2 separate regions of the Homo sapiens genome follow, and region 2 is linked to region 1. Evidence: fine-mapped expression QTL. A gene starts in region 1. The other region holds a variant in brackets. All regions are shown on one strand. Distances are from middle to middle.

Region 1 (5,369 bases):
CTGCGGGGGAATCCTCCTACTACTGCACGGGGTGGAGGGGGCGGGCCGGGGGGGAACATGCAGGCCCTGGAGCCCCACTCAGAAGACGCCTGAGCAGAGGCGCCTCGGCTCTACCCAGCTCAGCCCCCGCCCCCGCACTGCACATCCCCTCTGTGGGCTTCCATCCTTCCTCCCCTTCCCCCCCACCACCCAAACTGCCCCCAGGGCTCTGCTGAGGCTTCCCTGCTGTCTGGGCAGGGGCTGTTGGTTCCTCAGGAGCACGCCGTGAGATGAGCACCCAGGGAGTGACGAAGGGGGCTCCAGGGGATACTGGGGAGGGCGAGTCAGAGCAGGGCCCAGAGGGGAGCAGCAGGCAGGGCACAATTTCGGGCCAGTTCCGGGGCAGGGTGGGTGGAGCCCAACCCCTAGGGGAACTCGGATCCTAATGACACCCTCAAGTCTGCCCGTCTGCCCGGGCTTCTTACTCCCACTCTGGTCCTCTTGGCCAAAGGCATGAGGCCGGGAGGACGGCGATGAGGATCAAAACCCCTGGGTCCTTCCTGCCTCTGCGCCTGCCAGCAAAACAGCTCCATGAGTCCAAGGGCAGCTCAAGGGCAGCTCAAGGGCAGGCCACGGGAGCCACAGGTCCTGGCCATACAGCAAAAACATACGGAAGCCAGGGCAGTGCAGACACAGCAACAGGACAGAGGGGCCTGGCTGGAGCGCCAATGCCAGGGGTCTCTCAAGGCCCGCAACACGGTGTCCTTCTTGGACTAGAGTCTCAGTTAAATAACAAAGAGGGGATCTGATGACGTCCACGTGGGCTTCTCCCTGCCTTTGGTGGCGCCCCGGCCCTCCTGTGCGTCCTCCTGGCCCTGCTCAGATCCTAGGAGCCATCACACACTCAACATCCCCAGGCAGCACCAGCACCAAAGCCCCTCATTCCATAGCCCTCTAACACCTGGCTCAGAGTGAGCTCAGCTTCTTTTCTTCACACATGTCTTCATGGCAGCAAGGGAATCAAAAACTCTCCTCCTGGCCACCCACGGAAATGCAGCTGTCACCAGATGGAAAAGGAGGAGAAGATGCAGTGGGCTTGGGTGGTCCCAGGTGGCCCCTGGCCGGACTCTTTCCCTCAGTTGGGGGACAGAGGCTGATTGGAAGAGCACCTCCTTCCCAACGCTTGAGGACAGGGCCTTCCCTGACACCTGTGCCTGGGCTGGTCTTCTGCACCCTTAGCCTCAAGTAGCCTCAGACCACTGCAGTGCTGTTGAGGGTTATCCATAGCGTTTTTTTCCTGTGCTTTGGGTCTCCTTTGCCATCTGCAGCTGGACTAGGGGTCTTGGATTGCCAGGGAGGCTTCTGTGAAGTGGGCTGAAGAGAGCCCTTCCTCACTCGGAAGGCACAGCACAGCCCCGCCGCATTTATAAGTGAAAAGGGAGACCCCACTGTGATGGGGATCCTTCTGCCATTCCCCCAAGACCCCGGGATTGATGAGAGGCATTCAGAACTGCAAGGGGCATGAGGGGGCTGTCATGTCCTTGTCTGGGCGGCCTCCCAGGCTCAAATTGCTGCCTGAGAACAGGTGGCAGAACATTCCTGAATATTTAACCCTTGGCTCGCAAGAGTGCAGGAATGACAGTTCTGTGCCTGAGGAAAAGATTCGTGTCACTCGCACCTCACTTAGGACAACTCGTGCTTTACAGAAATTTACTAATGTTAAAGAATGATTTGTGGTTTCTTTGCTCAAATACAGGAAACTGACTTTTCTCAAAAATGAACTCTCCCTACCAATCTGCACCATGAAATTATTTCAGCAAACAAAAAATAATGGTTGCCCATCACCGCACACTGCGTGTGACTCAGCCATCACTCACAGGCAAAGAAGGGTGTTCTCTCCTCTCCCTGTCAGTTACTAATTCTCTGTAAATGACCATTTGACATCCTGGCCGGGGAGGATTCAGATCAGAGATGACTTCCCCACTGCCACAAAGTATGGTTCTGGGAAGGACAACCAGCCCCAAGGCCACGAAGATTCTGAAAAAGTTTCTTCTCATTTGAAGTCCAGTATTTCCTCGGCCCCATTTTTCTGTTAAACAATCCTTTTCCCTTGGAGATTGCTAAAGCTTAGCTCCAGGGCCAGCCTAAGCTCCAGCAGAACTGGGAGCGTCTCCTGTGTCTACATAGCTCCCTTCCCTCCTGCCTTCCTACTATCAAAGGAGAAACAGCGTGTAATTTGATTTTTTCCCCTTCTCCTCACTTGCCATACTGTGTTCTTTGCCTGGGCCTGTGCCTCTCCTTGCAGAGGCTGTGGACAGGAGCACCGAGAGCCACTTCCTGGAGCATGCTCCCCACCCCCGCAGCCTGTGGCTTCAGCCTCTGCTTCTGCAGACAGCGGTGGAGGAAGTCAGGACTGTCCCTTCTGACCTGAACACCTACCTCCAAGTCCTCCCTGTCGCCACAGAGACCCGGCAATGCAAGTGAGTCCTGTTTGACCTCGTCAATCATCGCAGACTGTAAAGGTGACTCGGATGCTCAAGAAACGAGCATACCCAGCAGTGGGCCCCAGACTTCTCGCAGGCCCAGGTCCTCCTGGGTGCACAGAGACCTACCAGACAACGGTCCGGCTGCACTGGTGTTGTGAGATGCCTGTGTCAGAAGACACTGAGTTCCTCACTCGCCTCCTATCATGCCGATGATCACAGGAGAAAGAGCAGGGCACATGCATGCCAGCATGCTGAAGGGAGGCCAAAACCCATGCTTGAAAACCACAGGTCCTGTTCTAGGAGCAGGAGATATATTTAGCCAAGCAGGATGTTTGTGGGTAAACCAACATTTTGCTGTAAATAAAATTCTGCAAACTCGGGACTTTGAGAATTGCAGAAGCTTACTTTGCCTGCGTATTGGCAAGAGAGCTATTTTCCTAACACAAGCTCACCATGACCCTCATTCAGAGATGCGCTTGACGCCGAGGGTGGTGCCTTTTCGCTAAGGGGTGCTGTCAGGGGATTGAGTAGGAGCCTGAAGAGCTAGGAGTATCTTCTCCCTGGGCAGACCAGCAGGCAGACCCTGTCCCTTCACACTACAGTGGCACGTGATGGGCCCCACTGCCCACCTGGTTCTGGTGTCCAGGCTGAAGTCCTCGTGTGACACTCCAAACTGTTCTGGCAAGGAAGGCTCACGGGTTCTGACCTACACTCTGAAACTGACCAGTAGTGATAAACTCCGCATGGACTTCAGCCATCATTGCGTACGTAAGAAATACGTGTTGCACACAGAGTGCTTCTCTACATTCCCAGGTTTGCCACTCCCCGACTTTTGCTGAAGCAGGTTTCTACTCCATCAGTCCCACAGATGTGTTCACAGGGCCAGCACTGAGTGTGGTGCTGGGGAAGGCATGTGCTTGGAGGCAGCCCTGTGAGATGGCACAGCCTAGGGGAGGAGTCGTGGTGGGGAAGACCCTGGCCACGCATGATAGAGGAAGCGTGGCCACACAGTCTTTGCTGTCCCTGCCACAGCATGGTGCTGTAAGTCTCCTCCTTCCGAGTCTGTGCAGACTTATGTGACACATTTGACCCAACAGAAATGCAGCATTTGTGGTGTGTGAAAGTTCCAGACCAGGCCACAGCGAGCTCCGTGGCTTCGGCTGTGTCTCCTGGAGCACTTGCTCTCAGGACCCCCTCTCTCAGAGCCCAGGCACCACGCCGTGAGAGAGCCCCAGCCACAGAGACAGGCTACGTGTAGGTGCTTTCATCAAAGTGCCACCTGTGCCTCCCCGCAGCAGTGTCAGGCCACCAGCTTGGACAGGCAGCTCCAGCCTCCAGTGGAGGCTTCAGAGGACAGCATCAAACAGCATCCACAAAGGAGACCCACCTTGTGAAAAGCGCCTAGCCAAGCCCTGCCCAAATCCCTGGCCTGTGCAATTGTGAGCAAAGCAATTCAATTTGGAGTGGTTTTATGCTGCAGTAGGTGACCAAAGCACTATGGAAGTGAATATCAGGAGCCCCTCACTGGGATGTCAGAAGACATTCAAGGAAGGTTTCCTGGAAGATTTAGTACCTCAGGTGGTACAGGAGAAGGTGAGATGGAGAGAAAGCAACCCCAGTCTGAAGACGCAGTGGTAAGAAAGGGTCATTCCCCTGGGCATGTGTGGTCTGCTGGGGGATGACAGCCGAGGTGAACTTGAAGCAGAGGACACTCAGACAAGCTGCACTCTGAATCCCGCTACGCTGACCGCAGCACTTGCTGAAGAAGCCGCCTCGCCACGCCCAAGCCCTGCAGAGGGAAGGACTGAGGAAGGCAGCTCAGAGGCCTCAGGCAGCCACAGTGTGCATGCTTGTCTATGACTCACAGCTACGACGTGGCCTGTGCTGCTGCAGCTGCTGATAAGCCTCAAACCTCATATACCACTCTCTTCCGAGGATTTTTTAAATACACAAAACTGGGAGTGAGAGGGGTATTTAATTCCCCTACTAACACATGTTGGGCGCAGCTGGAGCAGCCAGGCCCACTGTAGCTGGGAAGATGCGGTGCCTTGAGGTGCAGGCACTGCTCACTGCCACATGTGAGCACAGGTTCTGAGGGTGAAAGGTCCCTGGTATCTGGCCAGAGTGTTAGACTCTGGAACATAAGAAGCCCCCGAGGTGGTGGAGAAGGTCTAGCCAGGCTCCAGACTGGCTTCACAGAGGTAATGCTTTTTGGTTTGAAATCCGTAAGAGCGCACTACAACTTCAGGGCAAGCTCCAACAGTGCTTCTCAAACTTTAATGAGCACCCAAATCATCAGGGGGCGCGGGGGCAGTGGGTCGCTTACTAAAATGAAGATTCTGCATCAGGAGGTCTGGGGCGGTGACACGATTCTGTGTTTCTAACACGTTCCTGGGTGAGGCTGAAGCCACTAGTCCATGAAGCACACTTTGAGTAGCAAGAATGTGGAGGAACTGTCCCAGGATGGGCCATGATTTACCTGAATTCTCACAGTGGCTTAGACAATGGAGACCTTGTCCACAACTAAAAAATAAAAATAAAATCGAACCACACTCATTGTTCCAGGAAACAGCAATAACATTGGAAATAAATCAAATGGTTTATTACTGAGATTGTATTATCAGAGCTATATATTAATTTTTTTTTCTTTCTTTCTTTTTTCCTTTTTTGAGACAGGGTCTCACTCTGTCACCCAGGCTGGAGTGCAGTGGCATGGTCACTGCTCACTGCAGCCTCGAGTTTTCGGGCTCAGGTGATCCTCCCACCTCAGCCTCCCGAGTAGCTGGGACTACAGGCATGCACCACCACATCCAGCTAATTTTTTGTACTTTTAGTAGAGATGAGGTCTTGCCATGTTGCCCAGGCTGGTCTCAAACTCCTGGGCTCAAGTGATTCGCCCACCTC
Region 2 (5,369 bases), 8.2 kb before region 1:
ATCCCAATCCCAGGGCAGAAGAAGAAGAAATGAGATGTCCCAGCTCAAGCATGGAGGAAAGGGGGGAAGAGAGCAAATTCCTCTGTTCTCTGTCTTTTGTTTTGTGCAGACCCTCAAGGGGTTGGATGAGGCCCACCTACATTGAGAAGGGCATCCGCTTCACTAAGTCTTCTGGTTCAAATGCTAATCCCATCAGAAAACTGTCACAGACACACCCAAATAATGTTTAATCTGAGCACCTACGGTCCACTCAAATTGACTCATAAAATAAGTCATCACATGGGTGAAAGCCTTCCCTGGATGGTGAGTTTTCTGTCTCCCCAACGTGCATGCATGAAGAGCTGTCTGGGTAGATCTGATTCCCATCTTTTACCTACAAACATTTACCCACAACCTTGCCCAAATAACACTGAGCTCCAGGCTGTATGTGTATTATTTCTCATCTTTACAATGGCCCAGAGAGGAGTTCCTGAGTCCTGGAGGGAACTGAGGTAAAAGTGTAACCACTTGATGGGTTCTTCCTGCCCACTGCACGAAATCCATCCACTGAGACCAGGGCATTGCAACAGAGAAAGAGTTTAACTGACGTAAGGCTGGCCCATGCAGGAGAAATGAAGTTATTACTCAAGTATTCGGTGGGCTGGGGGACTAGGGAATGGGTGCTGCTGATTAGCTGGGGAGGAAATCATAAAGGGGTGGAAAACAATCCTTGTGCACTGAGTCCACCTCTGGGTGGAACCACAGGACCAGCTGAGTTATGAGTCAGGGGTCCAGGTGAAGTCAGTCTGAAAAAAATCAGATAAAACCAATCTTAGGTTCTACAATAGTGATGTATCCACAGGAGCAATTGGGGAACGTCACAAATCTTGTGACCTCTGGCCACATGACCCCTGAGCAGTAAGGGATTATAGAAATTATGCCATCATTTAGGCAGAGTTCAGGCCTCTCCCACAATTCTAATCTTGTCATCCTTCATTAGTCTTACAAAGGCGGTTTTTGGTCCCTGAGCAAGGAGGGGGTTAGTTTTATGGAGGGATTTACTTTTACCCTTGCTTTTAAGTTAAACTATAAACTATATTCCTCCTAAAGTTACCTTGGCCCATGCTGCCTTGACCAAGGACAGCTTGGAGGTCAGAAGCAAGATGCAATCAACTAAGTCAGATTTCTCTCACTGTCATAAATTTTGCAAATGCAGTTTCAGAGGGAATGAGTAGGGAAAGGTGGAGGGCCCCTTGTAAGTTATTTGCTGAAGAGCACACAGCTAATGGGTGCAGTTAACACAGGCTTTTGTTGAGACGAAGTCTTGCTCTGTCACCCAGACTGGAGTGCAGTGGTGCGATCTCGGCTCACTGCAACCGCTGCCTCCCGGGTTCAAGCAATTCTCTGCCTCAGCCTCCTGAGTAGTGCCCACCACCACACACAGCTAATTTTTGTATTTTTAGTAAAGATGGGGTTTCATCATCTTGGCAGGCTGGTCTTGAACTCCTGACCTCATGATCCACCCGCCTGGGCCTCCCAAAGTGCTGGGATTACAGGCGTGCGCCAGTGCACCCAGCCTAGGCTTTCCTTTTTTAAAACTCTTTTATTTTATTTACCAATACATATTCATGAAAACAAATCAACCCACACAATAAAGCACCAACAAGAAAGACAAATTAATCACTAAAATTGTAGTACCTCGAAGTACAGTTGACCCTTGAACAATGCAGGGGTTAGGAGCACCAACTCTCATGCAGTCAAAAATCCTCGTATACATTTCGACTCCCCCCAAAACTTTACAGTAATAGCTTGCTGTTGACCAGAGGCCTTACTGATAACATAAATAGCCAATTAACACATATTTCATATGTTATATATGTCATATACTGTATTCTTAAAGTAAAGTAAGCTAGAAAGAAGAAAATATAATTAAGAAAATCATTAAAGAGAAAATATATTTACTATTCACCAAGTGGGGGCGGATCATCATAGAGGTCTTCATCCCTGTCTTCAAGTGGAGTAGGTCGAGGAGGAGGAAGAAGAGGGATTGGTCTCACTGTCCCAGGAATGGCAGAGGTGGAAGAAAATCTGCATATAAGTGGCCCACACAGTTCAAACCTATGTTGTTAAAGGGCCCATTGTGCATCCAGTCCTTGTCTCAAACTGAAGGCTC[G/A]GCCTTGTTCTAATGCTATTGTCTCTAAGATATTCCCTTATATATTTACATCACTGCTCCACTGCAACGCACTGCTAAGATGCTTACACCCTGTCTCCGGGGGCTATGGTTGCCCTAGTTGAGGAGGACTCAGTGGCAGAAGGGACAGGAGTTCACCGACAACTGAAGCCCTGTCCCCGGGGTGCTCTCTTGGGTGCTGGTGACTCCCGGCATCCCCTCTTGGGCATATTTTGAGGTCTAGAGAACCATTTTGCCCAATAGTGGCTGTCAGATAAGGTCTGTTTGGCAGATGCCTGCAGAGCTGTGTGCCTGCCAACAGACATCCCCTGGCTTCCATCCCACCCTTCCCACTATGAGGAGTCAGAGTTGGTGTTTGGCTGACCACAAGGAACCCAGGCAGAAAAGTCCCCTAAGCCTACTGCAGCTCTGTGGTGTGGCTGAGTGGGATGCTCAGCAGGTGTTTGGGGAGAAGGGAAGGTGGACACCCTGAAGGCCTCTGACCCTACCTGAGGCCAAGGATGGGTGAAAAAGTGTAGCATGAATGGCAGCTGGGAGAGCACAGAGCCCAGGGTCTACCCTGACTTCAGGGGGCCTCAGCCAGTCAGACTTTGAATAACACCAGCTACACTGGGGCCCCAATTTCTGTGGCCCCCTCCCATGACAAACAAGGCCCATTGGTCAGGACGAACCAGATCTGATGCAGGAACAAGTGGCCTGCCAATCTCAGGGGCTCTGCCCATCACAGTCACTTAGCACCTCAGTACCTCAGCACTTCTCCACTTGTGGGCTGGTTGGGCTTCCTTGCAGCATGGTGGCCATGCTCGATCAGGGCAGTCAGACTGCTTCCACGGTGGCCCAGGAGTATTCCAGAGAGCCAGCAGGAAGCTGTCACCTCTTCATGACCTGGCCTTGAAAGTTACGTAGCATCACTCCACCGTAACTTTGGTGGACAGGCCACTAAGTCAGGCCCAGAATCAAGGGGACCAACACTGACTCCACTTCTCGGTGGGTGGAGCTGTAAAGCCACCTCACAGGACTGTCATGTTATTTATGAGCTAATATCTGTAAAGTGCTGAGAACCATTCCTCACAGTAATGCAATTTATACAAGTGTTTCTTAAAGAAAGCATACTGCTCATGGATTTGAAAATCATGTCTCAGTAAGCTAACTCCCTGTTTGATATCCAGAACATTCCTGCATCACCCAGTGGGGGAAGCACCAAATCCTGTTGCTCTTTCACTGCCATGCAAGTGCCTGGCCATGGAAGTTGGAGTCAGAATCCTTGTCACACCTTCCAAAAGTTTCACCAGAGGTTCAGAGAATCCAGAGAGGGCTGGATCTCCACCCTTCCAGGGAGAGGGAACAAACAGTGGGCTTCAGCAGCCTGACTCAGGAGCAAATTCCTAGATGACTCTACCTGGAACATGGCACACTGGGGCTCAGGGCTGTGAAACTCAGAGCAAAAACAAGGCCAGTGTTGACTGAGGCTCTCACCCTCCACTGCACGTTCAAACCATCTGGAGACCCTCAGATGGCTCCACACCTGGCCTCTCCCCAGGCAGAGCTCTGAAGTGGGACCTGGGCTTCAGAATTCTGAAACCTCCCAAGCGATTTCAAGACACACCAAAGCCTAAAAGTAACTGAAATGATGGGTTTCCGACGCTCCTGTGCTTGCGAGTCACTTGGGGACCTTGTTAAGATACAGACTCTCACTCAGTGGGGCCGGCTGAAATTCTGCATTGCTAGCAATCTCCTGGCAATGTTCATGCCTCTGGTCTGTGGACCACGCTTTGAGTAGCAGAAAAATAGAGCAGCATTTCTTAGTCTTGTCTTGTCTTTTTAACTCTATGCTTCCCACTGATTAATGTACAAATCCCATGCCTTCTTTTAATATTATTTGAAAACTGCACAGTAAATTAAATATTGCAACTAAAACCAAGTGTTAATTTGAGGGGACAAAATTCTGCATTGTTTGCACAACTCACTTCTGGGCCTTCCCATCCCACCAACACCTACAATCTGGGAAAACACCCTGTTGCAAAAACAACTGGAGGTGGCACCCATCCGGCTTCACCCAGGTTTCCACCGGCTCCTTCACCCGGCACCTAAAGGACTCACCACCCACCCCCTATTGGGGTCTTGCTTCACCCATCAACAAGCAAGATAATGTCAGGTGGCCTCGAAGGGCCTTTCCAATATCACTAGGGACTTTTGATCTTAAATCATCTTTTAATCTTTTCCATCCCATGGATCCTCGGCCTCCTCTGTGACTTCCAGGAAAGAAGCAGGCCTCCAAAAGCATTTTCTACCACAGGCACTTGTGCCTAGGGACTTTCCTGACAAGGACATGAACAGGCACATCAGGGTTGGTGACCACACCATAAGATGCTGGCAGGAACAAGGCCTAGGCCAAGGGTTGAGGAAACTATCTATAAGGGCTAGATGGCCTCTCAGGCTCTGCTGTGAGCTCACCACTATTCGGCTCCACCCCTGAAGCACAAAGAGCCACAGATGGTGTGTGAACAAAGGGTGTGACTGCGTTCCAGTAATATTCACTTCACAAAAACAAGCGTTGGGCCGGATTTGGCCCACAGGCTGTAGTTACCGGAGAGCAGTGCTTCTCAAACTTTAATAGCACAGAGATCACTCAGGGATCTAGTTAAAATACAGATTCTGAGAACATGGATTTGAGTGCAGCACTGTCCAACAGAAATATGATGGGGCCAGGCAAGGTGGCTCATTCCTGTACTCCCAACACTTTGGGAAGCTGAGGCAGGAGGATCACTTGAGCCCAGGAGTTCAAGACCACTTGAAGCAATATAGTGAGACCCTGTCTCTATTAAAAAAATAAAAGTTAAAAAAATTGACCGATCAGGGCAGATCACCTGAAATCAGGAGTTCAAGACCAGACTGGCCAACATGGTGAAACCACGTCTCTACTAAAATAAAAAAATTTGCCAGGCATGATGATAGGTGCCTGTAATCCCAACTACATGGGAGGCTGAGGCAGGAGAATCGCTTGAACCTGGGAGACGGTGGTTGCAGTGAGCCAAGATCACACCACTGCACTCCAGCCTGGGCAGCTGAGCGAGACTCCATCGCAAAAAAAAAAAAATTAGCTGAGTGTGGTACCACACGCCTGAAGTCCCAGCTACTTGGGAGGGTGAGGTGGGAGGATCACTGGAGCCCAGGAGGTCAAGGCTGCAGTGAGCTAAGA

Evidence for each region. PIP is the estimated chance that this variant, and not a neighbour inherited with it, causes the effect. A credible set is the group of variants that fine-mapping cannot tell apart.
Region 2: its variant is the best candidate, but not a certain one, in a credible set for the expression of LINC02937 in whole blood (INTERVAL, PIP 0.61).

Annotation. Positions count from the first base shown.
Region 1 is chr9:91,160,587-91,165,955 of GRCh38, forward strand. LINC02937 (long intergenic non-protein coding RNA 2937) reads right to left here and starts at 2,694. Exons shown (of 6, transcript NR_184105.1): 1 at 2,419-2,694. The region is part of intron 2 of LINC00484 (long intergenic non-protein coding RNA 484); the gene reads left to right. RefSeq lists enhancers at 2,654-2,703, 4,101-4,395.
Region 2 is chr9:91,152,422-91,157,790 of GRCh38, forward strand. All of the region lies in intron 1 of LINC02937 (long intergenic non-protein coding RNA 2937), which reads right to left. The region is part of intron 2 of LINC00484 (long intergenic non-protein coding RNA 484); the gene reads left to right. Among named protein-coding and RNA genes, the nearest start is that of LINC02937, 8.2 kb to the right of the region's middle. The variant G/A (reference allele first, on the strand shown) is at 2,153.